Homo sapiens: one gene and its partners. The protein of the gene in region 2 interacts with the protein of the main gene of each other region in a pairwise test. Each region holds a gene or a part of one and is shown on either strand. Other genes may lie near its edges.

The links.
Region 1: the proteins of STX8 (region 2) and SSMEM1 interact in binary tests that used the Homo sapiens proteins (3 or more experiments, as listed by UniProt).
Region 3: the proteins of STX8 (region 2) and BSND interact in binary tests that used the Homo sapiens proteins (3 or more experiments, as listed by UniProt).
Region 4: the proteins of STX8 (region 2) and GPR151 interact in binary tests that used the Homo sapiens proteins (3 or more experiments, as listed by UniProt).

Annotation. Positions count from the first base shown.
Region 1 is NC_000007.14:130,210,860-130,217,374, reverse strand, and holds the end of SSMEM1 (serine-rich single-pass membrane protein 1), read right to left. Parts: intron 3,896-6,515; coding exon 3,841-3,895; intron 1,402-3,840; coding exon 905-1,401; 3' UTR 531-904; downstream 1-530.
Region 2 is NC_000017.11:9,502,801-9,509,830, forward strand, and holds part of STX8 (syntaxin-8), read right to left. Parts: intron 2,363-7,030; coding exon 2,238-2,362; intron 1-2,237. UniProt on the Homo sapiens protein: Vesicle trafficking protein that functions in the early secretory pathway, possibly by mediating retrograde transport from cis-Golgi membranes to the ER.
Region 3 is NC_000001.11:55,001,903-55,008,932, reverse strand, and holds part of BSND (barttin), read right to left. Parts: intron 3,912-7,030; coding exon 3,817-3,911; intron 1,937-3,816; coding exon 1,661-1,936; intron 720-1,660; coding exon 305-719; 3' UTR 1-304.
Region 4 is NC_000005.10:146,513,175-146,520,061, forward strand, and holds the start of GPR151 (G-protein coupled receptor 151), read right to left. Parts: upstream 3,017-6,887; 5' UTR 2,940-3,016; coding exon 1,680-2,939; 3' UTR 1-1,679. UniProt on the Homo sapiens protein: Proton-sensing G-protein coupled receptor.

The DNA of each region.
Region 1 (6,515 bases), on a different chromosome or scaffold from region 2:
ATTCTCCACTTTTGATGTGTAAGTCCTTGGCCTGCCTTTAGCATGAATCCTGTTAGGTCACTTTATCAGGAATACTCCTATGTTTGATGTCTCTCTTTGGTAATTTCCCATCCTGTGATGTCCTCCTCCTGCTCCTGGCTATAAATCCCCACTTGTCCTTGTTGTATTCAGAGTGGAGCTCAATTTCTACTCTCTATTGCAATAGAGTCTTGAATGAAGTCCTCCTGGCCATTTTAACAAGTGTCAGAATAATTTTTCCTTTAACATTTGCCATGCACTTTGTGGATGACAACCGTGGGTAGCCCACTGCCAACTGCCTTCTGGGTCATGCTGCCTCTCCTCCCTACTCCAGGAATCAGATCTTATTCCAGCCTCTTGAGCTCCTCTTCCACACCAGCCCCTAGCTGACATGTGTGGCAATACAGTTCTTGTAGGGTCAAACCTAGAGAGGATGGGGCAATTCTATTCCAACCAACTTCACCTAGTTCATTCAGTCAGTCAGATAAGCAAAACATCTGAATACATTTAAGTGGTTTCTCAACATAAATAATACATTTTCAAAGAGCTTTCTTATTCATATTACAGACATAAACAAAATACATACACTCAAGGCACAAAATATATACACTCAAGGCACAAAATATCTGTCTTGTGCTATTTCAAATAAAAAAATCATAGCAGATATAGATCTTTGGTGTTCCAATGGTGCCATAAACACGTGATGGCCTTTTTTTTTTTGAACGAAGAATTGTGTGAGATTTTACCTCTTGGGTTCCAAGTATGTTTTTGTTTGTTGGTAGAGAGACTTTGTTGTAAAAGTCTCCTCACCTATAGCTCTGGTGATTTTTCATGTTTTATTCATCTCTTTCATTTGGCTTCAAGTGAAGGAAGAACGTGATAAAATTCAAAATTTACTAAATTTCTTGTTAATGTCAGATATGGAACTTTCCTCTTGACTGTCTCTTTTCATTGGCGGTGTTACTGAAGGCTTCTGTCGGGAATGGTGCGCCAACCATTCGTTGGTTCTCAAGGCTTTGCAGTGGAGGCAGTGCCTTTCGCTCATTTGGTAACTTCCCAGATTCCTTTGCCTCTGAGCCATTTTTCTCCTCTTAATACTGTCTGGTGATGGGTGGTGTTCACTTTCACTCTCCTTCCACGAGGAGGCTTCTGAGTTAGACTCTTCACTGCCATACTCCGTAGTATCACTGTCATGTTGGTTCTGGTTCACCTCATTGAACTGAGACTGGCGCCTGGCTCGTCTTTGTTCAGGATAGGCATTGACCAAAGCCACTTCTGAGTTGGTTACAGGGGTAAGTTGGTTCTGCTTTGGTTTCTTCATTGTTTGTGAGGGATCCCAGGCACTGTCTTTGCTTTGCCGCTTACAGGAAGTCTCTTTGCTTGCTAACAACCAATGAAACATATCAAGTTAGTAATATTGTTGGTTACTATGAATTCCTATTACTTAAGAAGCCTGTGCACGTGTGAGCTCACTCTTAGTGGCCAGTTGTCAAGCCATTGCTTTTCTCCAGTCACCTGCAAGTGTTGGCAGCTGACTGCATTTTCTAGTACCATATCCCAACTCCTGCAGACCAGAGAGCTTAGATAGATGCTTGACATATCACCATATCACTTTTGAAGTTTTGTGGATGCTAAACATAAGGTCAAAGGAAAAGATCTCTAAACTTTTCCAGGGAAGAACTCTTTTTTCCCTTTGAAAATTGAAGTCTTACAGATTCAAGCAGGTATATGAATGTGATTTGGGGAGCAGGAACTAAGAAGGATCTTTCCTTTACGTAGTGGTGTGAGGAAGTTGGCTTGTACCTGCTCAGAAGAGCTGATAAACTTTCAGGAATTTTGAGAGATGGTTAAACATAGCCATTATTAAAAATTAAATTATACCAACTTACAATAAATTAAGTTACTAAAAATAGAGGTAATACTCAAAACCCATCACTTCCTAATTATCTTACTACATTTGTTTATGCTATGTGCTCTTCTGGTTTTTTATGTCCGTTGTATTTGGATGCTGGAAACTCTATGCTGTTTTTTTGTTTTGTTTTTTTTTGTTTTTGAGATGGAGTCTCGCTCTGTTGCCCAGGCTAGAGTGCAGTGGCACGATCTCGGCTCACTGCAATGTCTGTCTCCCAGGTTCAAGTGATCCTCCTGCCTCAGCCCCCCAGCAGCTGGGATTATAGGCACGTGCCACCATGCACAGCTAATTTTTTTGTATTTTTAGTAGAGACAGGGTTTTGCCATGTTGGCCAGGCTGGTCTCGAACTCCTGACCTCAGGAGATCCACCCTCCTTGGCCACCCAAAGTGCTGAGATTACAGGCGTGAGCCACCACGCCCGGCGGAAATTCTATGTTAAGGGTGCACTACTGCACATCTCCTCCCAACTCCATGTTCAATGACATGAGGTGGATAGCTTAAAATCAGCTTTGGTGGAAGTATTTATACCACGAAAATCAGCAGACACTAAACATCAGGGCTTGATGTATGGCTTTGTTGATTGTCTAGGCTTAAGAAAATGATGGAGAACATGTTACTAATGCAGATTACATATTACATTTCAGTATCATCCCTGTAGCCACTACATTGTGACTAACCCTGCAAAATGAGGAAATATTCTTCCAGTATTTTAGAACTATTATCCATTCCAGCAAAGAAGTCACTCACATCACTGACAACCAAGTTAAGTTCCAACATACATCTATCTTCTGCTTCATTTTCATCTCACTCCTTAACTTAGAGGAAAATAACATTCACGCTGGAACTATACTTGTTCATCAATTGCAGCCATGGTTGGCTAAGGTGCAAGGGTCTGGCAAAAATGAAGGAGAGCGTTTTGTGAGAATCAGTTGTCTATATGAAATTGGCCATAAGGAGTATTGTATATTTTATTATTTTAAATGGTGTGATATATATTTATTTATTTTTATTTATTTATTTATTAAATTTTTAGAGTCAGGGACTCACTGTGCCGCCCAGGCTGGAGTGTAGTGGCATGATTATGCCTCACTGGCAGCCTCGAACTCCTGGGCTCAAGTGATTCTGTTGCCTCAGCCTCCTGAGTAGCTGAGACCGCAGGTGCGAACAACCATGCCAGCTAATTTTCTTTTTTAAAAAGACAGGGTTTTGCTATGTTCTCCAGGCTGATCTTGAACTCCTGGCCTCAAGCAGTTCTCCTGCTTCAGCCTCTGGAGGTGCTGAGATGACGTGCAACCTTTATATCAGTAAAATTTTTAGTAAGCATATGTACACACAGGAGTTTTGGAGAACCAGTTGTTAAACATTTACCAGTGCACCACTGCTTATAGGTTATTGAAAAAGATGTCATAGACAGTTCATAATCCTGTAATAGCACTAACCATGAGGATGTGGGAAGGGCAAGCAATGTGAAGGGAGAGAGCTAAGGAGTGAAAAAAGAACTTGAGTTCCACCTCCCAGTAATTCATAGCTTCTTGCTAAGCAGCTAAACTGTCCCTCTGCACTAGGGAGTCCAAAGCAAAAACTCACCCAACCCCAATGGGCCTCCTCTAGTGTGCAAAGTCTTACAATGCTGTTGGCTGTTCATCTCTGTTTTTTGCTTTCCACACTCAGCACAAATTTCTTTCTTTGTCTTTATTTCATTTTTCTTTTTTTCTTTTTCTTTTCTTTTCTTTTTTTTTTTTTTTTTTTTTTGGTACTGGGTCTCACTATGTTCTCAAGCTGTGGTCTTGAACTGCTTAGCTCAAGCAATCCTCCTGCCTCAGCCTTCTGAGTAGCTGGGACTACAGGCATGCAACACCACACATATTCTTCCCCTCATAGTCCAACACCAAATATGCACTGGTTCTCACCTTTCCTTACTGAAGTACTTGTCCCACTGCCTTCATCCTTTTTATCCTCAGACATCTGTTTCAGAAACATAGGTTAGTAAGAGTGATCTCAGTTGTTTTTTGATAATATGTACTTGTTATAAAACACTATTGCTGAGGCCCATTTATAATGTCTGGTTTTATTTTTTTATTATTTTATTTATTTATTTTTGGAGAGTCTCACTCTGTTGCCCAGGCTGGAGTGCAGTGGCATGATCTCAGCTCACTGCAACCTCTATCTTCCGGGTTCAAGTGATTCTCCTGCCTCGGCCTCCCAAGTAGCTGGGATTACAGGTGCCCGCTACCACGCCCGGCTAATTTTTGTATTTTTAGTAGAGACAGGGTTTCACCATGTTGGCCAGGCTGGTCTTGAACTCCTGACCTCAAGTGATCTGCCCACCTTGGCCTCCGAAAGTGCTGGGATTACAGGTATGAGCCACTGGGCCTGGCCTGACAATGTCTAATTTTAAACATTCAGTTTAAACAAGTACTTACTGAGTTAAATAATAAGCTAATTCAGTATGTATTGAGTTCCTGTTATAGTGATCCTACTTCCACTTCCCATTAAGACTATGCTTTGATAGCAGCATCTACCAAAATGTTTTGGACCAAACAAAATGGAACAGACTTGAGAGAAAATAACACTGACAAGGAGCTATAGCTTATAAAGCTTTCCTGTACCCATTTACATTACAGAGAAGTAGTGTTTTTAAAAAATTTGATAGTACTCAGATTAGTTTAGTTGTTGTTTTTTTGTTTTGTTTTTTTGTTTTTGTTTTTGTTTTTTTTTTGAGACGGAGTCTTGCTCTGTATGCCCAGGCTAGAGTACAATGGTGCGATCTCAGCTCACTGAAATCTCCGCCTCCCAGGTTCAAGTGATTCTCCCGTCTCAGCCTCCCGAGTAGCTGGGATTACCGACATGCACCACCACGCCCGGCTAATTTTGTATTTTTAGTAGAGACAGGGTTTCTCCATGTTGAAAAGGCTGGTCTCGAACTCCTGATCTCAGGTGATCCACCTGCCTCAGCCTCCCAAAGTGCTGGGATTACGGATGTAAGCCACCGCGCCTGGCCCAGATTAGTTTAGTTCTTAAAGGACACTTGATCAGGGTACATTACTGATAGTTCTTTAAGACAGAAGACATCTACCATACACAAAGATCTTTACCGAATTCATGAACTTAATATCTCCTTAATCCCTCCGAAAGTTTCCTCCAAAATGTAATCATGATATATTATTTGTGAATACAGCAACCAAAAGAAATGGATTTCTTTGAATAGTTTCAATTTCAAATATTCTGCCCCCCAATACTCCATAAATATATTTGTCCCATTTTTCAGATTAGTGTCCCACTTTCTAATGCTGAAAGTGATTTTGCCAAAAGACACAGATATAAACCAACTCTTTCAGAAAATAACAAAAACTAGAAATTTTCATTAACACCTTTGACATATAATTCTCTCTCCAGGAATCTATCAGCAAGAAATAACCCTCAGAAGAAAGAAAGCTTTGTCCACAGAAACATTCATCACAGTATAATTAGGATAATAGAAAATTCAAAAGTAGACAATGGTTTAAGTAAATTATGGTACAATTATATAATAAACAGTTGTAAAATTATTATAATAAAAGTATGTCATAACATGAGGAAATAAGTGTGCTACCATACTGGGTTAAACATCAAGATGCAAATTTGTATATACAGCTTGAGCGACAAATTAGCTTAAAATATGAAAAAAAAGACTTTAAGGAGCATATAAAAGTGATAGCTATGGTTGGCTTTAAGTGGTGAAATGGACTTTTTCTCTTCTAATTTTTTCAAATTGTCTACAATTAGGAAAAAAATGAGTTTATGTGGAAGTCCAGTTTCTTTGGGATGAAAAGTGCCATAGTTCGGTATTTATAACTGCAATCTAAGATCCTCAGCTCATTCTTAATATCTGATCTCTGCAATGGTAGGCAAGCATCTTTAATGAGGTGCCTTTTTGTTTTCTGGGTTACAGCAATCATTCTCCAAAAATCTTGAAAGCGGAGTTCACTTTTAAGATACCACTTTCTGGCCAGACACGGTGGCTCATGCCTGTAATCCCAGCACTTTGGGAGGCTGAGGCGGGCAGATCACAAGGTCAGGAGATCGAGACCATCCTGGCTAACACGGTGAAACCCTGTCTCTACTTAAAATACAAAAAAAATTAGCCGGGTGTGGTGGTGGGTGCCTGTAGTCCCAGCTACTCAGGAGGCTGAGGCAGGAGAATGGTGTGAACCTGAGAGGCGGAGCTTGCAGTGAGCAGAGATTGCACCACTGCACTCCAGCTTGGGTGACAGCGAGACTCTGTCTCAAAAAAAAAAAAAAAAAGATACCACTTTATAAAAAATGCTTTTGGAAGAGGCTTAAATATTTTAAATTTAATATGTATCACTTAGGTTATAGAAAAGGAAAAAAATAAATTTAATATATGTAAAGAAAATCAAAATAATTGGAAGTTTATAAACCTAAAAGTTAACAGTAGTTGGTTATTTCTACATAATCTGGAGTGATTTTTATTTTATTTTGTCTTCTGCCCTATAATTTCCACATTTTCTATATAATGTGTACTTTTGTAATAGACAGGAGAAGGTATTTAAAAACACTTATTAGGCTTATATCATTTCCACAG
Region 2 (7,030 bases):
TAATATAAGAGTGAAATGCAGGCCGGGCGCGGTGGCTCATGCCTGTAATCCCAGCACTTTGGGAGGCCGAGTCGAGTGGATCGCTTGAGGTCAGGAGTTCGAGACCAGCCTGGCCAGCATGGTGAAACCCCATCTCTACTAAAAATACAAAAAAAATTAGCTGGGCATGATGGCGGGCGCCCGTAATCCCAGCCACTCGGGAAGCTGAGGCAGGAGAATTGCTTGAACCCAGGAGGTGGAGGTTGTGGTGAGCTGAGATCGTACCACTGCACTCCAGTCTAGGCAGCAAAGCCAGACTCTGTCTCAAAAAAAAAAAAAAAAAAAAAAGAGTGAAATACTGATACACATAACCAGTTCAATGAATCTTAAAATAATTATGCTTAGACAAAGAAGCCAGAGCCCCTTCTTCCCCAAAAGGTACATACTGTATAGTTCTATTTATATAAAATTATAGAAAATGGAAACTAATTTATAGTGACAGAAAGAAGTTCAGCAGTTGTCTGGGCATGGCAGGGAGGAACAATAGGAAGAATTACAAAGAGGCATGAAGAAAACTTTTGGGAATAACAATTAGGTTCATTATTTTTATTGCAGTGATGGTTTCACAGGCATATACATATGTCAAAGCTTATCAAATCATATACTTCAAACATGGGCCATTTATGATCATATCAACTACATCTCAATAAAGCTGACTTTAGATTTATTTTCTCCTCCTCCTCCTCCCTCTTCCTTTTTATTCATTAATTTTTTTAAAGATGGGATTTTACTATGTTGCCTAGGCTGGTGTCAAACTCCTACACTCAAGCCATCCTGCTGCCTTGGCCTCCCAAAGTGTCAGGAGTACAGGCATGTGCCACCAGGCCTGGCAATAAAGCTGATTTTAAAAAGCAGAATTAGAAAGAATAATGTATCTGTACATACTGACATTTTAAAAAGTCCATAACACATACTAAGTGGTTTTTTCTTTTTTTTCCTTTGAGATGGAGTCTCACTCTGTTGCACAGGCTGGAGTGCAGTGACATGCTATATCGGCTCACTGCAACCTCTGCCTCCTGGGTTCAAGCGATTCTCCTGCCTCAGCCTCCTGAGTAGCTAGGACTACAGGTGCGTGCCACCACACCCAGCTAATTTTTTATTTTTAGTAGAGACGGCGTTTCACCATGTTGGCCAGGCTGGTCTCGAACTCCTGATCTCAGGTGATCCTCCTGCCTCAGCCTCCCAAAGTGCTGGGATTACAGGCGTGAGCCACCACACCCAGCCGACACATACTAAGTTTTAAAAAGGTGTGGAATTATATATATATATGGAGAGAGCTAAATATCTCATGATTCCATTTATGTAAAATAAGTATATTTATATTGAATATATGTATGTGAATGTATACAAAAGGTCTAAGGAAATACATATTAATCTGTTTCCAGTTTGAGATTGGAGAAACAATATGGAGGGCTTTCATCTTATACATTCCTATGTTGTTTACACTTTGTATAACAATCATGCATACTTCTGAAATTTTAAAAATATAAGAAAGTTTAAAAAAAAAAAGTTAAAAAGCCACAGGGCAAAAGATAAAAAAGAAAAGCCAAACTGACATATTTTATAATTTAAAAAATAAAATGGAGTCTTGTGTTTGGAGACTAATTCCCAGTCGTGAAGCTAAAGTAAAGAGCATAAGCATCAAATTTGCTTGGACTTAGATTCAGATCTGCTCTCTCTGCTCTTGCCCAATGGAAAATCACCACTTCCATGAGCCACCGAGATGAGTGACAGCAACTGTCTATTCCTCAGGTATCCTGAGGCACACACCAAAAGCTTTAAAAGACCAGCAGTTTTCACTCCAATTTTCAATGGGGATGAGGAACAAACAAGGCTCCAGTAGAAAATCTGGTGGCCGGGCACGGTGGCTCACACCTGTAATCCCAGCACTTTGGGAGGCCAAGGTGGGAAGATCATGAGGTCAGGAGATCAAGACCATCCTGGCTAACAGGGTGAAACCCTGTCTGTACTAAAAATACAAAAAATTAGCCGGGCATGGTGGCACGCACCTGTAGTCCCAGCTTCTCGGGAGGCTGAGGCAGGAGAATCGTTTGAACCCGGGAGGTGGAGGTTGCAGTGAGCCAAGATCACGCCACTGCACTCCAGCCTAGGCGACATAGCAAGACTCCGTCTCAAAAAAAAAAAAAAAAAAATTCTGGCAAGGTTTCTGAGCCCACACTCCTCAGGATATTTAGTACCTTGGATAATTTTCTGCTGCTGTTGCCGGATTTCATCAAAACCCAAGCCTCTGGTCTCCTCTGGCTCCTCAAAGAGCCAAGGGTTGGGTGCTCCTCGCTTAGCCTCTTCACTCATCAGGCTGGACCTAAAGAACAATATTAAATGCATGATATATCTCAAAACATGCAGCTCAAATGCAAATTACTCCCACAAGTGCAGAGGTGGCCAGCCTTGAATGCTTTGAAAATTCAATTCAAACACAATTTATTGCATCATTAGTTTATGCCAGGAACTGTATTCAGTGCTGGACGAGATACAAGGATGAATAAGGCACAAGCTTGGTCCTCAGAATTACAGCCTGTTATAGAGATGATGGGAGAACATAATATTTGTACTAATCCTCCAAGAGATGTTTGAGTTAATAATCCTAAAAGAAGTTGGTAATAAATGAGGTTCTTAAATTTCAAAAACAGAAGGCCGAACAGCGGCCTTTTTATTAGGACAAAGTTTGTCTCAGAGGCTACGTGACCCCAAAGGTACAAATATTATTTCTCAAGCAGACACAATGTTGCGACTACAGATTACAATGTTGTTGTTGTTTTAAAAAAAGACCATATAATTTCCCATTAAAGGGTATTTGGAGCCGGGCGCAGTGGCTCATGTGTGTAATCCCAGCCCTCTGGGAGGCTGAGGCGGGCAGATCACCTGAAGTCAGGAGTTCCAGACCAGCCCGTCCAACATGATGAAACCCTGTCTCTAATAAACACAAAAAAAATTAGCCGGGCTTGGCGGCAGACATCTGTAATCCCAGCTACTTGGGAGGCTGAGGCAGGAAAATCGCTTGAACCTGAGAGGCGGAGGTTGCAGTGAGCCAAGATGGCGCCACTGCACTGCAGCCTGGGTAGCGGAGCAAGACTCTGTCTCAAAAAAAAAAAAAAAAAAAGGAGTATTTGGTTGCTCAGAGACAGAAACACATGCAGGGTTTCAATACCAATTTTGTGACTATAATGTAGCATTCATAACAGAATAAACACATTCTGATTTGTCAATCTTAACCTTACTCCCTCTAATAATCCATGTGCCCTTTCTGCACGAGACCAGTTGGTCTCGCTGTCTAAGGAACAGGAAACACATGATTTCCACCTCAGTCCCCATGTTTTCAGGATTTTTCTCCTCTCAAGTAGCTCCTCTCCTCTCCCCACCTGTCTGCATTCTGTCCAAGCTGAGAAGATCATCTTGTCCAGGACACGACCTTCTGACCAATTCAACAAAGAGATGAACATTAGACTCATCTTTAGAGCTCTCAACAGATTCATGAAAAATCATAGAATAAATGATGGGTGGGACATCAGCAAGATGACTGATTAGAGTCAGCTGGTGCTCACCCGCTCCCCCCCCCCCCCACCCACCTTTCTTAGGAAAGGACTAAGGCAATGAATAAACAGCTAAGATTTGACTTCAGTGTGGGAAAGTGCTGAACTGCAGTGGGGAAGTGGAGAGGCCCCTGTGGTGACTGAAAGTCTAGGAGGGCAGCATGAAGGCCCCCAGCCTCTGTGGCCCCATCTCTTCCACCAGGACTGAGGAGGCCTGGACATATGAAGGCCTTCTCCCTGTGAGGAAAAGGTAAGCGGGAGATTCCCACCTGCCCCCACTGCCACTGCAAACACCTACAGTCCTTATTACAGGAGGATCCCCCAGTCCTTGCAAGTTCTGAGCCCAGTTTGGAGAGCTGCTGGGAATTCGTACAGTTGCACTGCCCCAGATTAGGAGCATTCCCCACTCCCCACCCACTCCATGAGCCAAGTTACTACAGCATGGCGCCATCTTTAGACCACAGCTCCCTCTGGAGTGTGCCTTCCTCTTGGGGCCAGTAGCCACTGCACCTTTCCAGCACTGGGACTCCATTTTCATGCCACCAAAGCTACACAGGTGGCTGAACTCCACAACCCAGGGCTCGGGAATGGCTGTGACTCTGGTCCTGCAATGAAGGGAAACCACCCTCTGCACTTTCAGCCACAGAAACAGTCCCACCCAGGGCAAACCCACTCTTGAGCCAACCAAACTGCTGCATACCCTCCTGCAAGCAGAAGGCCCTGAGCAACTGACAGGCTAGCAGAGTGACTACGCTCCTGCATCCCGGATCTATGAAACAGTCGGGCAGTGCAGCCCCCTACAGACATGCCCCCGGCCTGCCCAAAGGCCCCACACCTCAATCAGGGCCTGAGAAACAACCCTGCAGGCTGCCCCTGGCAGACATACCCCCAGGCCAGCCAAGTAGCCATGTGTCCATATCTCAGGCCTGAAAAACAGCCCATGGGTCACCCCTAGCGGCAACTCCCCTAGGCCAGCCGAGCAGCCTTGTGTTCATATCCCGGGTCTGAGAAGCAACTCCTCAGGCCACTCCTGGCAGACATGCCCCCGGGGCCATCAAGCAGACTTATGCCCACCTCTCATGCCTGAGAAATAGCCCTGTAGGCTGTCCCCAGCAGGCATTCCCCACAGGAGAGCTGAGCAGCAGTGTGCCCATGTCCCAAACCTGAGAAACAGCCCAACAGGCCACCTCTGGCAGGCATACTCCCAGACTGGCCAAGCAACCAAGCAACTGTGCCCTCAGCCAGAGTAAGGGCACCAACCCCAACCCCAGCAAGTGAGACCCCAAGTTGGACAACCCACCATGTGAACGCATGCATCGCTGACCTGACAAATAGCCCGGTGAACACATCCCTGGCAAAGTCATGCCACCACCACCACAAAGCCTCTCAGCTGAGGCCACTGAGACACTCACAAATGTCACTGGCATGGATTACAGTTAAAGAAACTACACAAAAACTACACTACTATGCCCACCTGGAACCAAAGCCAATGCATCCCACTGAACCAACACCCCAAGATCCATTCATACAAATATTTCTTTCCCTGCAAAACCTACCACATAAAATTGGAAGAGGCAATTATTCCACCAGATGCATAGACATCAACATAGGGATACATCGAACATGAAAAAGCAAGGAAACATGACACCTCCAAAGGAATACAATAATTCCTGTGTAATAGACCCCAATGATAGAGAAATATACAAAATGACAGAAAAAGAATTCAAAATAGTAATCTTACAGTGAGATACAAGATAATAGAGCTAGACAATTTGATGAAATCAGGAAAACAATTCATGACTTGAACAAGAAATTCAACAAGAAGATAAATACCATAAAAAAGAACAAAACAGGTATCCTGGAGTGGAAGAATTCAATGAATAAGTAAATAAGTACAAGCTAGAGCTTTACCAAAAGACTAGACCAAGCAGAATTTTATTTATTTATTTTTTTGGAGACAGGTTCTTACTCTGTCACCCAGGCTGGAGTGCAGTGGCATTATCTCAGCTCACTGCAACCTCCACCTCCTGGGCTCAAGTGATTCTCCCTCCTCAGTCCTCCTGAGTAGCTGGGACTACAGGGGCATGCCATCACATCCAGCTAATTTTTGTATTTTTTGGTAGAGATGGGGTTTCACCATGTTAGCCAGGTTGGTATCGAACTCCTAATCTCAAGTGATCTGCCCGCCTTGGCCTCCCAAAGTGCCAGGATTACAGGTGTGAGCCACCATGCGTGGCTGAATTTTTGAACTTGAAGACAGATCTTGTGAAATAACACAGAAAGATGGGGGGAAGAAAAAGTAAAATGGAATGAAGAAAGCCTACAGAATTCATGGGACACTATTAAGTGAACAAATATTCACACTGTAGGTGTTCCAGAAAGAGAAAAGAAGGGCAAATGTACAGAAAACATTGAATGAAATAGTAGCTGAAAACTTCCCAAGTCTTGGGAGCTTCCAGATCCAGGAAGCTAAAAGAATCCCAAATAGATTCCATTCAAACAGGACCCCTCTTAGGCACATTAGAGTCAAATTATCAAAAGTCAAAGACAAAGAATTCTAAAAACAGCAAGAGAAGGACTGGATGTGGTGGCTCATGCCTGTTATCCCAGTACTTTGGGAGGCCGAGGCTGGCAGATCACGATGTCAGGAGTTCAAGACCAGCCTGGCCAACATGGTGAAACTCTGTCTCTACTAAAAATACAAAAAAATTAGCTGGGCATGGTGGCAGGTGCCTGTAATCCCAGCTACTCAGGAGGCAGAGGCAGGAGAATCACTTGAACCTGGGAGGCGGAGGTTGCAGTGAGCTGAGACCACGCTACTGCACTCCAGCCTGGGCAACAGAGCAAGACTCCATCTCAAAAACAAACAAACAACAATGACAAAAAGAAACCAGCAAGAGAAAAGCATCAAATCACCTATGAGGGAGTTCCCATTAGACTAATAGCAGATTTCTCAGCAGAAATCTTACCAACCAAGAGAGAATAGGATTTTATGTTCAAAGTACTAAAAGAAAAAAAAAATCTGCCAACCAAGAATATTACATGCAGCAAAGATATCCTCCAGAAATGAAAGAGAAATAAAATCTTTCACAGACAAGCAAAAACGAAGGTAATCCATCACCACTAGACCAGTCTTACAAGAAGTGCTCAAGGGAGTATTACATCTGGAAGTGAAAAGATCATAACAGCCATTATAAAAACATGTGACACTATAAAACTCACTGGTAGAGCCAATATACAAAGGAAAAAGAGAAAGAAATCAAGCCTTATCACTTCAGAACACTACCCAACCACAAAAATAAACAGTAAGAGGAAGTAAGGAACAAAGGATATAGAAAACAGCCAGAAAACAATAAAATGACAAGATAAGTCCTCACCTATTAATAATAACCTTGAATGTAAGTGAATTAAATATCTCATTAAAAGACATAGACTGGATA
Region 3 (7,030 bases), on a different chromosome or scaffold from region 2:
GTTCCTCTCAGAGGTCAGCTTTGGGGGAAGGTGGAAAATGCTTTTGAGGGCTTCAGCTGCTGCAAACCTCAACAAATCATATTTTGCCTTCAAAGGTTGGCCAAAGACCACTAACTATTGGAAAAACAAGAGTCCACTAATAGTCATCATCCCCTCCCTGTGTATTTCTTTACCATTCTCAAAATGCCACCATCTCATTGAACCTCCATATCATCCCATTTTGCAGATAGGGAAACTGAGGCCCTGTGATGTCACACAGGGGTCAGCAGCAGTTCCAGACTAGAAGCTACGGAGCACAAACATCTCAGCCTTGGGTGTCAGGCTCAAAACCCAGCTCCTTGTCCGGGAGGAGGTCCCCGGCTCCATCTGGCAGCCCATAGTACAGGTCTTCCTCTTCCTTCTCAGGTTCCTCCCCACCTGTGTCCGAAGCCTCCTTCTCCTCCACCTTTGTCCTTGGGTACCGCTGCCAGTTGTTGGGCAGGGCTATTTCCCACTGCTGCCCCTCTTGGGGCTCATCCTCCAACGTTGGGGCATCAATCAGGGCAAAGTCTTGGAAGCGGTCCAGCGGGCACCTGCAGCCCTGAGGTTCCTGTTGTGGGGAACAAGCTTCCTCCCTGTCATGTGGAGATGCATTGGGGCTGCTGCCTTCACTGGAGTCCATGTCCAGGTCATCTTGGAAGGAAGCCAAGGGGGCAGGGCCCTGGGGACAGGCCAGGGGGCTGCAGGGACAAAGACCACAAGGGCAAGGGTATCTCTGAGTCAGAATGCCTGGGTCCACATTCCAGCCGCTAGCTGCAAGACCTAGGGTAGGATAATCCACCTTCCCGGGCCTCAGTTTCTTCCCAATAACAGAATTCACTCCTGCAGTTCTTTCTTAGGTTTACAGCAGATAATATGTGCAAGGCACTTTGCACAGTGCCTGGCACATAGAAGGTGCTCATGAAATAGGGCTATTACTATGCTATTATCTGAACCAGGTCACTCATCTACTTCTCCAATTATTCAGGGTTCTCCTCTGTTGCTCATAGGCCCAGTTACACTGAGGTGTCCCCGGGTGTCTTTGCCTCCCTCATTGGACTCAGAGCTCCTCAGGGGTAGATTCCAGTGAAGGCTGGGCAGGAAGTTGGTGCTCAGTAATGTGGATGGAATGAATAAGTACATGGATGAATAAGGAGCTCAGTTCACAAACAGACAGGGATGGGAGTGGAGTGGGGAGGGCCTTGCCCAAGGTCACAGAGCAGGTCAGCAGCAGACCCAAATTTGAACTCGGGTCCTCTGGCTCCTGGCCCCCTGCTACTCACGACAAGCATTCAGAGACATCAAGGGCCTACTGTATGCCAGGTACTTAAATGCACTGTCCCAACCCTCAACATTCCTGGGTAGTAGGAATGATCATCCCTGTGTGGGGAAACTGAGGCTAGGGAAAGTAAGGAACCTACCACAGCTACACAGCACAGGAGCTGGGGTTTGAACTGAGGCCTGACTCCCAAGCCCATACTCATTTGTCTGCCACATCTGCCACATCTCAGGGTGTCCCACACCCTCCACTGCCCTCTCCTTACCCCCAGTGTCCCCACCCACCCCTCGGCGGTCCCCCACTCCTCTCCTTTTTAACCCTTGAACTGGGCAGAAGCCCCACTCCTGCCCTCTAAGCACTCACCCGGGCCAGCTCTGAGTTAGGCGTCTTTCCCCTTCACTCTCGTCTGAGCCCTTGTGGATGACCACGGCAGCCTCCATCCAGGCCTGAACGTCGCCAGGGCCACCTTCTCCTCCATCACTGGTTCCCAGCTTCGGCTGCCCCATCTCAGGGGCCAGCAAGGAGCGGTGGTCCTCACTGTAGCTCATGACTTTCATCTGGATGTGGCTGAAGTCAGGCAGGCTCTGGTCATAGGCGGCTTCCTCCCACAGCCTTACATAGGGCGGCTGGGGACTGGGGCTGGAGTGGGAGAGAGAACAGGCAGGCGGCAAAGAGTCACTCAGCAAACACCAGTGTTCTCCCCGGCCCTGTTTGCTTTGGGTATGTGGTCTCCCCTCACCTCACAAGAAGCCTTTGGGGGATGTTACTGCGCCCGTTTCAGGGATGAGGAGGCTGAGGCCCAGCAAGGTGAGTTAATTAAGTGACAAAGCTCAGGCCTGACCCCAAGTCTGACTCTCTATCCAGTGTTTTTTTCACCTGATGCCTCCAAAGTTAACCACAAGGATGCAATTGCAAAATGAAGACCCGTTAACATTGAGTTTGCCGGGTCCCAGATGGTGGGTAAAGGCTGAATGCTTATCAACCCATTATTCTAAACATTATTCTAAAAAATGCCTTGAGGCAGAAATTCTCATTCCCAGTTTACAGATGAGGACATACCCAGCAATGACAGTCTACAGCAATGGGGAACTCCTTCCTGCCAGGCTCTGTTAGTTGGCTCATCTAACCCTCACCATAATTACAAGAGATACTATGAAGAAACTGAGGCACAGAGTCTCTAACAGACTTGTACCCGGGTGACATGGACCCTAGGTGATAGTACTGGAGCTCCAGATATCATGTTCTCTATGACTGTGCTACAGTCCCTCTGGAAAGTAAGGTTCAGAGACTAGGCCCCTTGCCTAGGGTCACACAGCCGGGAAGTGACTGGGAAGAGCTCAGAACCCAGGGTGGCCGGAGCCCCCACTGTATCACAGGAGCCCACCCCAAGTAACCGGCCCTGAGACGGAGCTCTGGCTGGCCTCCATACCCACAGGGTCTATCCCCTTCCTTCCCACTGAGGCAGTTGTTCACCTTGGGTGCCAGGGGCAGAAAACGCCATTATGAACCCCTTCCCCAAGCAAAGCAGAGATCATCCCTAACCCAGCCGACAGACTCTGGGCTTGAAGCCCGGCCTCCTGAGTGCAGAGTCACAGCCCAGGGGGTTGGTGGTCCCACTGCCTCTCCAGGGCTGGAGCATTCTTGGCTGTGCCATGGGAGCCAGGGCTCAAAACCTCCAGAGAGGGAAGCAGTTTGTGGCCAGATCAGGCCTGAATTCAGGCCCCGCCTCCATCACTGCTGAGTGCAGGCCCCGCCTCCACCACTGCTGAGTGCAGGCCCGGCTTCCATCACTGACTCCCCATGAGGTTTGGGGCTAGTGACTACACTTCTCTGAGCCTCAATCTTCCTAGCTGTATAAAGAGCCTAACACCCCCACCTTACAGGGTTTCTATGAGGACTGAGGGAGTCAGTGCCTGACTCAGTCTCTGGCACACAGAAGGCACTTACTAATGATGACAAACACTCATAGAAGACCTACTGTGTGTCAGGTTCTGTTCTTAGCACTCTGCCTATATTATCTCACTTAACCCTCCCTGAAGCCCTAGGAGATAGGTACTATTAGTATCCCCATTTTACAGACGAGGCAAAGAGAGGTCAGTAGCTTGCTGGAAGTCAGGCAGCGAGTAGGCGGCAAAGCCCTGAGGCTGAGCCTTGGCCACCACCATGCCTCTTGTTTGTCAGTAGTAGAAGCACTTACTCCTGTGACTCTATTGCACTGTATTTCTCACAGTACATTTATTTCATTGTATGATTTGTTTCATGGAGATCTTGTATTCACCGAAACACTGTCTCGTCCCTGACAAGACAAAGTCCCTGGGCCTCAGTTTCCTCATCTGTACAATGGGAATAATAATGCCTAACTCACAGAATTGAGAGTTGAAAACAGTCCATAATTTCTAATACATTCTCAGTAAGTGAGAAGGCAAACAGCCTTCCTGCCCTCCCTCTCACTCTCCTCAGTCAGGGGAGACTGGCCTATGGGGCTTACTCCTCCCCTCCCGAGAGGGCCTGGCACCTACCTCTTCATCTCGGCAGCAAGCCCATTCTCCAGCAGGCCCATGGCCTTTGGGGAGAGGATGCCTTGAAAGTCAGAGTCAGCAGGGACGAAGGTGATCTGCAAGCAAAGGAGAGACAGCCTCTGTGCAGTTGACCAGGGTAGGGGGGCTACTGTCCCCTCAGGGAATTGGCAAACCTCTCCATGAGCTCTGGGAGACAGGCTGCACCACGGAGGCCTCCCTGCTTGACAGGAGAGGGGCCTACTTGGGGCACAGCACCAGCGGGAGGATGGACCTCTGTGCTCCTGCTCCCTTCCTGGTTCTTCATTCACTCTACAAACATTTATTATCTGCTGTGTGCAGGCACTGTCGCAGGCACTAGGAGCAGCAAGGAGTGAAAGAGAACCCTGTCCTTGAGGAGCTCACATCTTTTCATTTCCCAGGGGTCTTCGTCCAGTGCCCAGCACAAGCCTGGCACATAGTAGGTGCTTCATCCATATTTGGTGAATGAGTGGAAAGCAAGTCATTGTCATGTGTTTTTGCCACATGGGCTGCAGTGGGTGACAGAGAAGTTATGCCCGCCAGTCCCTGTCCCTGAACTTTCAGGAATCAAGAGGTCTCTGCAAGTCCAGCCCTAGGTGGGCACTGCGTGGTGCAGTCGGAGGCAGATCATGAAGGAGGCAGTGGGTGAGGGAGAGGAGCTGTGCCTGTGGGATCTGGGAGATGGGGTGAGGATCCCTCCTCTGCCAGATTCTCACTGTGGGCCCTAGGCAGGTCATCTCTCTTCGCAGTCTCTCTGTGCTCCTCTGTATAACGGGGCTACCCTCGAAGAGATACTTGCACAGCCATGTTCAGAGCAGCAGTATTCACAAGAGCCAAGAGGTAGATGCAACCCAAGTATCCACTGATGAATGAATGGATAAACAAAATATAGTCTATCCATATGATGAAATACTATTCAGCCTTAAGGATGGAACTTCTGACACATGCTACAACATCACTGAACCTCGAGGACATTATGCTGAGCAGAAAGACAAATACTGTATGATTCTACTTTTCTGAGGCACCTGGAATAGTCAAATCCATAGAGCCAGAAAGAAGAAAGATGGTTGCCAGGGGCTAGAGAGTGGGATAATGGGGAATTGTGATTTAATGGGTATAGAGTTTTAGCTTTACAAGACAAAAAGCATTCTGGAAATTGGTTGGATGACAATGTGAATGTACTTAGCTGTACTGTACACTTAAATATGTTTAAGACACTAACTTTTATGTTACGTGTATTTTACCATGAGTTTTAAAATGGGGCTAGTTACGCCAGTCTCCTGAGGTTGCTGTGAAAATTTCATGAGATCATATATAGGGAATCCCTCAGCATGGTCCCCAGCACATAGTAACTACTCAGTAAATCATAACTTGATGCTATTGATGATTCAGTTGTCTGACTTCTCTGAGTCTTGCTCTCCTCGGCTGAAAATTTTTCCAATAAATATTTGTTGAGACCCCACTGTATTATACCAGATTCATAAATAGCACTTCCCTATTCCCCTTCCCATAGAGCAAAGTGAGTAGAAGACACTTGTCTGCACTAGGAAAGCTCCATTCTGATGGGGAGAAGGGAATGATGGATGGAGGGGGCCTTTGTACTCCTATGAGGAGTGCGCTTTCTCTAGATGTCCAGAAATAAAACAGAGCTCCTGGGCAATGAAGAAAGACGCTGTCTCTACAAAAAAAATAAAAAAATTAAATAACAAATTTAGCTGGATGTGGTGGTGTGAGCCTGTCATCCCAGCTACTTGGGAGACTGAGGCAGGAGGATTGGTTGATCCCAGGAGTTCGAGGCTGCAGTGAGCTATGATTGCACCTCTGCACTCCAGCCTAGGTGACAGACTGAGCTCCTGTCTCTTAAAAACAAAAAAGAAAAGGAAAGAAATAAGGCAGGGGCCTGGGCTTCTTCCACCCCCGTTAAGGATGCTTTGTACTTCCCAGCTAGTACTGTACTTCCTAGAAGCTGCCTCTTCCTCTGCCTCATTACCTCATGGCCCAGTCAGCACCATCATCATCACCGTCACCATCATCATCACCGTCACCATCATCATCACTATCATCATCATCATCATCATCACCATTGTCACCATCACCATCCTCACCATCATTATCACTATTATCATCATCACCATTATCACCATTACCATTCTCACCATCACCATCCTCATCATCACCATCTCCTAATCACCATAATCATCACCATTGTCACCATCACCATCCTCACCATCATCATCTCATAATCACCATCTTTACCATCATCATTCTTATCAGCACCATCACTAACATCATCATCATCATCATCACCATCACCATTCTCACCCTCACTATCCCCACTGCACTCTCATTATCACCATCATATCATCATCACCACCCTTAGGAAAAGCTTGGAGAAGGAAAGGATGGGGCATCTTAAAATGCAAGTTTTTTGATGAGGAGGGACAGGCAGAGTTGAAGCTGGAGAGAGGATATCAGACCATGGAGACCACCAGAACACCAAACTAAGAAGCTTAGCCTTTCTCCAGATGCAATGGGGAGTCCTGAAGGACTCTCAGCAAGAGAGTACACTGTCAGATTTGTGTTTAGGCAGAACACTGAGCAATCTCCAGAGAGAGGGAGGCCACCAGTCAGGACCCTGGTCCTGGTCTCCAGCACAGCAGGCAGGAGTGAGGAATGGGGGATGCGTGGGCAGAGACCCTGCTCTCCCTGCCACTCCTTTCCCTGCTCACAGCTCCCCTGCCCCATCTTCACTAATGGGCTCAGCACCTCCAACTGTCCCATCCACTAGATTTGCCCTGATCCCTTCTCCTCTCTCATGCCTGAGGCCCAGCTGACCACCAAATCTGACCAGGTCTACTTCAGAAATTCAATAAGATAACCTGGGTGGAAGTGCTGGTGCTATGCCTAGCCACAACGGGTACTCTATGTGAAGTGAACTGTAAATGTCACCTTAGTTCCTACAGCTTTGTGTTTGAATTCTGCATTATTCCAGATGACTGTCAGCTCTCACCAAGACCAGAGAAGAAGCCTCCCCACTGGTATGGCTGCCCCCAGACCTTCCTTCTTCTGGATGTCTTTCTCAAACTGCAAAGCTGGTCGTGTCCCATTAACTAAAGGACAAGCTCCAAATTCCTTACCATGGCATCCCAGGCCCTGAAGAGTTGAGCCCCACTCCCTCGCTACCTTTACCTTCCTC
Region 4 (6,887 bases), on a different chromosome or scaffold from region 2:
TAAATTTACTACATATAATGAACATAAAAATTATTTATTCAAATAATCACAGACAATGATAATCCTTTTTATAACTACCATATCACAAGACAATATTTTGGATTCTTGGGTTAAATTTTACTTTATTTGAATACATGAGCTTCAAATAAAATTTGTAATGAAGGATGTAAAAAGAATACAGCCCTACCTCCTGTGTTAAAAAGCAAACTATGACCACTTATGAAAAAGCAAAGAATCCGGAAACCCATAGACAAAAAGCAAAATCTTTTTTTTTCCATAACATATCCTTTATATTTCAGATTCTCCATGGCTTGGTTTGCCCTAAAGGCATTTCTATTCTGAGGGAAACTTTCAGTGAAAATACCCGAGTTCCATAACAAAGTAATCAAGAATCATGGGTGAATGTCATTATACTTAAAAGGGGCAGAAATATATCATAATCATGTTTTATTGGGTATGTTTTACCTTGCTATAAAATGAATGGTTATTGCCTGTTACTCAGATTTTACCGTATGTCTGGGTACACAGTTTTACTGCTTTCTGCATTGCCCTTATGCTTTTTATTTTGTATTCTTAACCAAATTCTGTCTTGGTTTGTTGAATTTTCTCTTTTTGATATTAATCTCTTTCTCAGGTTGCTAGATTATTTTTATAACTTAGCCTATAGTATTTTAAAAGTTGAGTAGGGTTCAAGTTCAATGTTCTGAGTAAGGGTAAGTTTAGTACCATTAACAAGAAAGATCACCATCTCCATCTTCTATTTGTATTTGAGGAGTAATCTATACCTATATCATTAACCATGGTTTATCTTGGGAGAAAGGAGATATTAGGAGGAACACATTTCTGCTTATAGAAAAATAACTTTCCCACATTTTGGAAGTGAAGAGAGGACATTTTTTTAAGTATTTTTTCCCCCATATCAGACTACTGAATGTCATTGGAAAGCTGCTACAATTCTTAGACTTAGAAACTGAAGACTCATTCAGGTAGCTTTAAAAAGTTCACTGAAGCAGGCTTTAGTTTAAGTTTGAATTTATTTAAACTTGGCCAGAACCAGCCATGGCTTGAAATGAGTCCAGAATTGGAATAAGGTGCTGTTTCTTTTTCTTTGACCTTCAGTCATGAACATTATGATACGGACTTTTCATCAAGTAAATTAACACTTATTAAGTAAATGAAGAACGCATTAAAATTTATCATTAATGTGTTAAAAATCTCAAGTGAAAGTAGATTTTGAGCTTTGGTTATGTGAAATACAATTTAGTAGGTAAAATTAGGACTAGCAGGTCCTGGGTGAAACTGAAGGTAAAGGGGCTCAGCTTTGACAGAACCTCTACTGCAGGCTCCAGCCGGTCCACTACAGGGCTGGTCCTAGGGGGTACCCAGTAAAACCACTGTGAACAAATGACAGAATAGCCAGGCTGTCTAATCACTTTGACAGCAACATCTTTACACAACACTTAAATTGTTTGGGAAGCCAAGTTCTAATTCTGAAACAATTATTACTTCTAACATGGTTCTCTACTTACCACATTGCACATTTGGAAAGTGTAGATTGTGAAATATTTTTATAATTCCTAATGGTAATAATTATATCAGTTTGTAAAGTCAGCAATATTGATAAGCAGCAGTACAAGTAAATACAATAATCACAGTTTGTTTTGCTTTGAAACTTAAATCTATTTAACACCTTCCCCTGTCTCTTGATCTTCATGTTCCCAGGGGATAGGGTCATTGTCCTGTACAGAAGGGACTGTGTCCCTCTCATGCCAAAACTGCTCTACGTCAGGAAGGATGGGAATCTCTGCCTTCTCAGTTTTCCCTTTGCCAGAGGAGGGAGAGCTGGGTTTCTCTTTTTCTGGTATGGATGCTGGGGATTCTGGAGATGGAACCTTGTCAGGAAGACCCTCTGAGTTGCCAGCTGGTGTTTCCTGAGACTCTGAGACAGTTGGAGGTTTTTTGGTTATCATCCATTTCCATACACCTTTCAAGCCTTCCCTGAACTCTTCCGACATCACAAGAAAAATGAGAGGATTTGCTGAAGAGATGGAAAACATCAAGACTTGAGACAGGGCTATGAAACCTTGTGGTGGGGCCGGGCCTGCAGCCTTCAGATGCCATACCCACAGCCAAGCTACCCATTCGGGGAGCCACAAGAGAGCAGAGATGATGGCAATGCTCAGCAGCATCACTGTGACTTGCTTTGAGCGTATCTGGTTTCTAAGATTTTGAGTCTTAGTTCCTCGTTTTTTACATTGGTCATAAGCTCTCCAGAAATAAAAGCTGGCAAAAAATAATGGAAGGCCAAATGCCAGGAGTGGGTAGAGCTTACCAAACATCGACATAAACTCTTCAGCCACAGCTGGTACATCCACGAGGCACATTTCCACACCTTCATGATGCCTGATGGTGCTAAAGAACCATTCCGGCAGGGGTAACAGGCTAGCCACAGTCCAGATGGCCACCAGCACTGACCAGATGGTGTAGTTGTGGATACTCACTTGCTTGGCTGGGTCACTTGCATACATGAAGCATACTTTGGCCACCACAACGATTGTCAGGCTCTTGGCTGCCATGCATGTGTGGATAAACCAGTCAGAGGACTTGCAGACAAACCAGCCTAGATCCCAAACACTTTTGGAGTACGCCGTAGCTCGGATAGGTGCAGAAAACAGCAGGAGGGAGAGATCAGCCAGGCTGAGATTCAGAATCAGGGAGTGGATCATGGATGGCTTTCCTTTCCAAGCATTGTGAAGGAGGATGCCAATCACACACAGGTTTCCCACGAAGCCCACCAGGCAGACAGCCACCAAGAGAGCCGGGATGATGGTTCTCCAGTCCTGGGAATCAGAGGGCAGGTACCCTCCGGCAAAGTGGAGGTGAGCAAAGGACACATTCATGCTGCTGGAGTTAGAGTCTGCAAAGGCAGCTGCCAGCATCACTCTTCACAGCTTCTTACAGAAGTTAGATTCTTATTTAGGTTTGTCTTTCTGCCTGGGCTCTTTTGCATAGGAAATAAGTACTCTGTCGTCAGTGTCAAATGACACTTCTGGATCCTCCCCTTGCTTATTTCCTGAGAGCAGAATGTGGAAGGAGGCTGGCTGTTAAGCTCTTCTCTGCTGCATACAATATACTTGTGACTGTACCGACTGTCAGATAGCAGGAGCACATGGCTGCTGCTCATTAGCAAGTCTAATACCAAATCGTCAGCCCTGTGGAGTAATACAAATATACCCATAAATGATGAATGAAGAGAACATACATGTAAGTGGCATGTGTTCCTTGGGGGGTCACTAGAGCCAGTCAAGGCAATTATTTTCAACCAGCTCTTCCTAAAATCTTGACTGCTGTCTGTAATTTAGTGAACACTACATCTGAACCAAGTTCTTTGAACTTCACCTGATGGCCGGATCCAGTGGGTCTGGAGTAGGGCCCAAGAAATCATTTCTAACAAGTTCCCATGAGACTCTGATGCTGCAGGTTGGGAGACCACACTTTGAGAACCACTGTTTTAAACTGAGAACTAAAGCTTCCCCTACCCACTCTGCAGAGATGAGCTTCCTCTTCTTTTCCCCAACCCTTACAACCACCTCAGTTCCATCAACAGCTGGCTGAGTTCAAACACAGCTGGATAATGAAAACAAGTTAGAAGTCCTATTAAAAAAATCTAATTATGGATGACTCTCAGTTTATTCTATTACGAGTTTTTAGAAGCAATTTTACAGCTCCAAATTAGAACTGCTTTACATACTAATAAGACTTTTCAACAAGTGATGGTGATGAAGGCAACTGCATGATGAATTAAGCTGCTTTTCAGAGAGCATTCCTAGAGGATTTACCAAGACAAGAGAAATGAAAGAAAAATCAATATCTATGTGGAAGGCATTTAAGAGATTTTTTTAAATTATATTTTAAAGTTGGTAAAGATTTTGTGCTGGGCACACTGGCTCATGCCTGTAATCCCAGAATTTGGGGAGGTGGAGGCGGGAGGATTGCTTAAGGCCAGAAGTTCGAGACCAGCCTGGGCAACAAAGTGAGACCCCTGCCCCCACCTCTACCAAACAAACAAGAAAAAAAAAAAAAAGAAAAAAAAAAAAGTCAGCCATGATGGTGTACACCTGTAGTCCTAGCTACTTAAGAGACTGAGGTGAGAGGGTTGCTTAAGCCCAGGAGTTCGAGGTTGCAGTGAGCTATGACTGTGCTGCTGCACTCCAACCTGAGTGACAGAGTGATCCTCTGTCTCTAGAAATAAAAAAATTCTCAGATAAGATGATTTGGTAGAACTAGCCCTGAAATTTTAAAATAAGCAATGGATACTCTGGGGGGATTAGAGGAGCTCAAAATGTTCAGAGAATGGGGTTTGTGGGGTTGATATGAAGATACATGCTACATTGAGTGTGGCTAGTCAGAAAAGCTAAAGCATGATATACAGGAGAGTATGCTGCTGCATTCAGATCTCTGGATTCTGGTACTGTGCTTTCACGTTTTTCGCAAGTAAAGAAGGGTCTGACGTTTTAAAATTCTTCAGTGTCCTAGAAAATAAATAAGTAGTGATCAGTATAGCTATTGGGACAGTGGTCAGTGGTGCTGGGTTCCTTTGTTTCCATTTCTATTTCCTTTTGCTTTCCTTCCTTTTACCTCTGGGAAGTAGTTGTTCCTATAGAACAGTAAATTGGGGCAACACCTTATTCCAGCAAGGCACAGTAACTCCCAGTAACTACTTAAGGATGAAATATCCTTGAGTCTCAACAAGCATCACTTTTGGGTGTGAAGAGGCCCGCAACGTCTTACAGGGAAGAAAATGGGGGAGGGAGCAGAGTGATGTTTTGCAGATTGTAGACTACAAGGAAGGTAGTTCACTTGATGTATGTGGAAGAGATTCATTCAGAACCAAGAAACAAATATACTGCTTCACACTGTGGCTTATATATTCAAGATTATGATATTCAAGCCTCCTGAAGCTGTATAAGATAAAAAGCTAAATGGGTTCAAGCCACCTTTAATACCATGGAAATTTGATTCTTAATAGACAATTGAGGGAAACTAAAGACTGTCATGTGGTACTTCCCAAGTCTATTGGTACTGACTCAGGGAAGCATCTCCTGGTGCTCCAGCTAGAGATAAAGTCTTTGGACTGAAGGATAATGAACTTTCTCCGCTCTTTTGGGGGAAATTTATTTTAACTTTTTATTTAAAAATAATTGCTTCTGGGCACGGTAGCTCACACCTGTAATCCCAGCACTTTGGGAGGCCAAGGCAGGTGGATCACCCGAGGTCAGGAGTTCAAGACAAGCCTGGCCAACATAGTGAAACCCCGTCGCTACTAAAAAATACAAAAATTAGCCAGGTGTGGTGGCACATGCCTGTAGTCTCAGCTACTCGGGAGGCTGAGGCGGGAGAATTGCTTGAATCTGGGAGGCTGAGGTTGCAGTGAGCCGAGATGGTCCCACTGCATTCCAGCCTGGGTGACAAAGAGAGACTCTGTCTTAAAAAATAAAAAAATAAAAATAATTGCAAATGTATAGAGAAAAAATGCAAGAAGAGCACAAAGAATTGCCCTATATACTTCATCTGAGTTCACCGATTAATTATTTATTGAGACACAGTCTCACTTTGTCACCCCAGGCTGGAGTGCAGTAGCGCACTCTTGGCTCACTGCAAGCTCTGCCTCCTGGGTTCATGCCATTCTCCTGCCTCAGCCTCCTGAGTAGCTGGGACTACAGGTGCCCGCCACCATGCCTGGCTAAATTTTTTTTTATATTTTTAGTAGAGACGGGGTTTCACCGTGTTAGCCGGGATGGTCTCGATCTCCTGATCTCGTGATCCGCCCGCCTCGGCCTCCCAAAGTGCTGGAATTACTGGCTTGAGCCACTGCGCCCGGCTGAAAATTTCAACATGTGATTTTGGAGGGCACATAAAGATTCAGACCATACTACCCAAGTTTCACATTTTACTTTGAATATTAGCCCTTGTATATCTGAGTATCTGATGGATGTTATATGTGGCTTGTATCTACATTTTCTTCATTTTAAAATTATTTCCGTATAAAGGATAAATGTAATTAGCAAACATAAAAGAAGTCTTTATTTGCATTATAAGTGGAAGTTATTTGAATCTTTGTTTATAGCATATTCACTTAAAACATAGAATTCAGTTGTAGATGTGGTGAACATTTGTCAGGTTTCCTTATTTTTATTTATTTTGGGGAGGTGCCTAGTATATGAACCTCTCCTGTTGGATAGAAGGGATTCTGGGGAAAAATGATATGGATGGGGTGGATAGAGCAGAACAATTAAAAACAATTGAGAATTATTTGAGATGGAAACTGGAAACAACCTCATCCCCACAAAATGCTGGAAACAACCCAAATGTTTATCAGCTGGTCAATAGATAAACAAGTGGCTACCTTCATGCCATGGAACATTATTCAGCAATAAAAATGAATGATAAATTCAACAATATGGATGAAAAAAAGCACTATGCTAAATAAAAACATCCAGACCAAAAAAAAAAATACCTACAGTAAGATTCCATTAATAGGAAATGTCCAGAAAAGGCAAATCTATAGAAACAGGAAGTAGAATAGTGGTTCCCTGGGTCCCGAGGTGTGAAAGGGGAGTGACCGCAAATAGGCACAGAGGATATGTTTGGGGTGATGAAAATGTTCTATGATTGCATTTTATGGTATGCAAATTATACCTCAATAAAAGCTCTTTTCAAGAAAGGAGTTATTTGGGATGGAGAAAAGGTAAAGAGCAGATTTCCCTGCTCTTGAAATGCTGAGTAGCCTCCAGCAGAATGGATATTCTATTCTGAGACTTTTAAATTTATTTTTATTTTTATTTTTTCTGAGGGCTCTGTCGCCCAGGCTGGAGTGCAGTGGCACG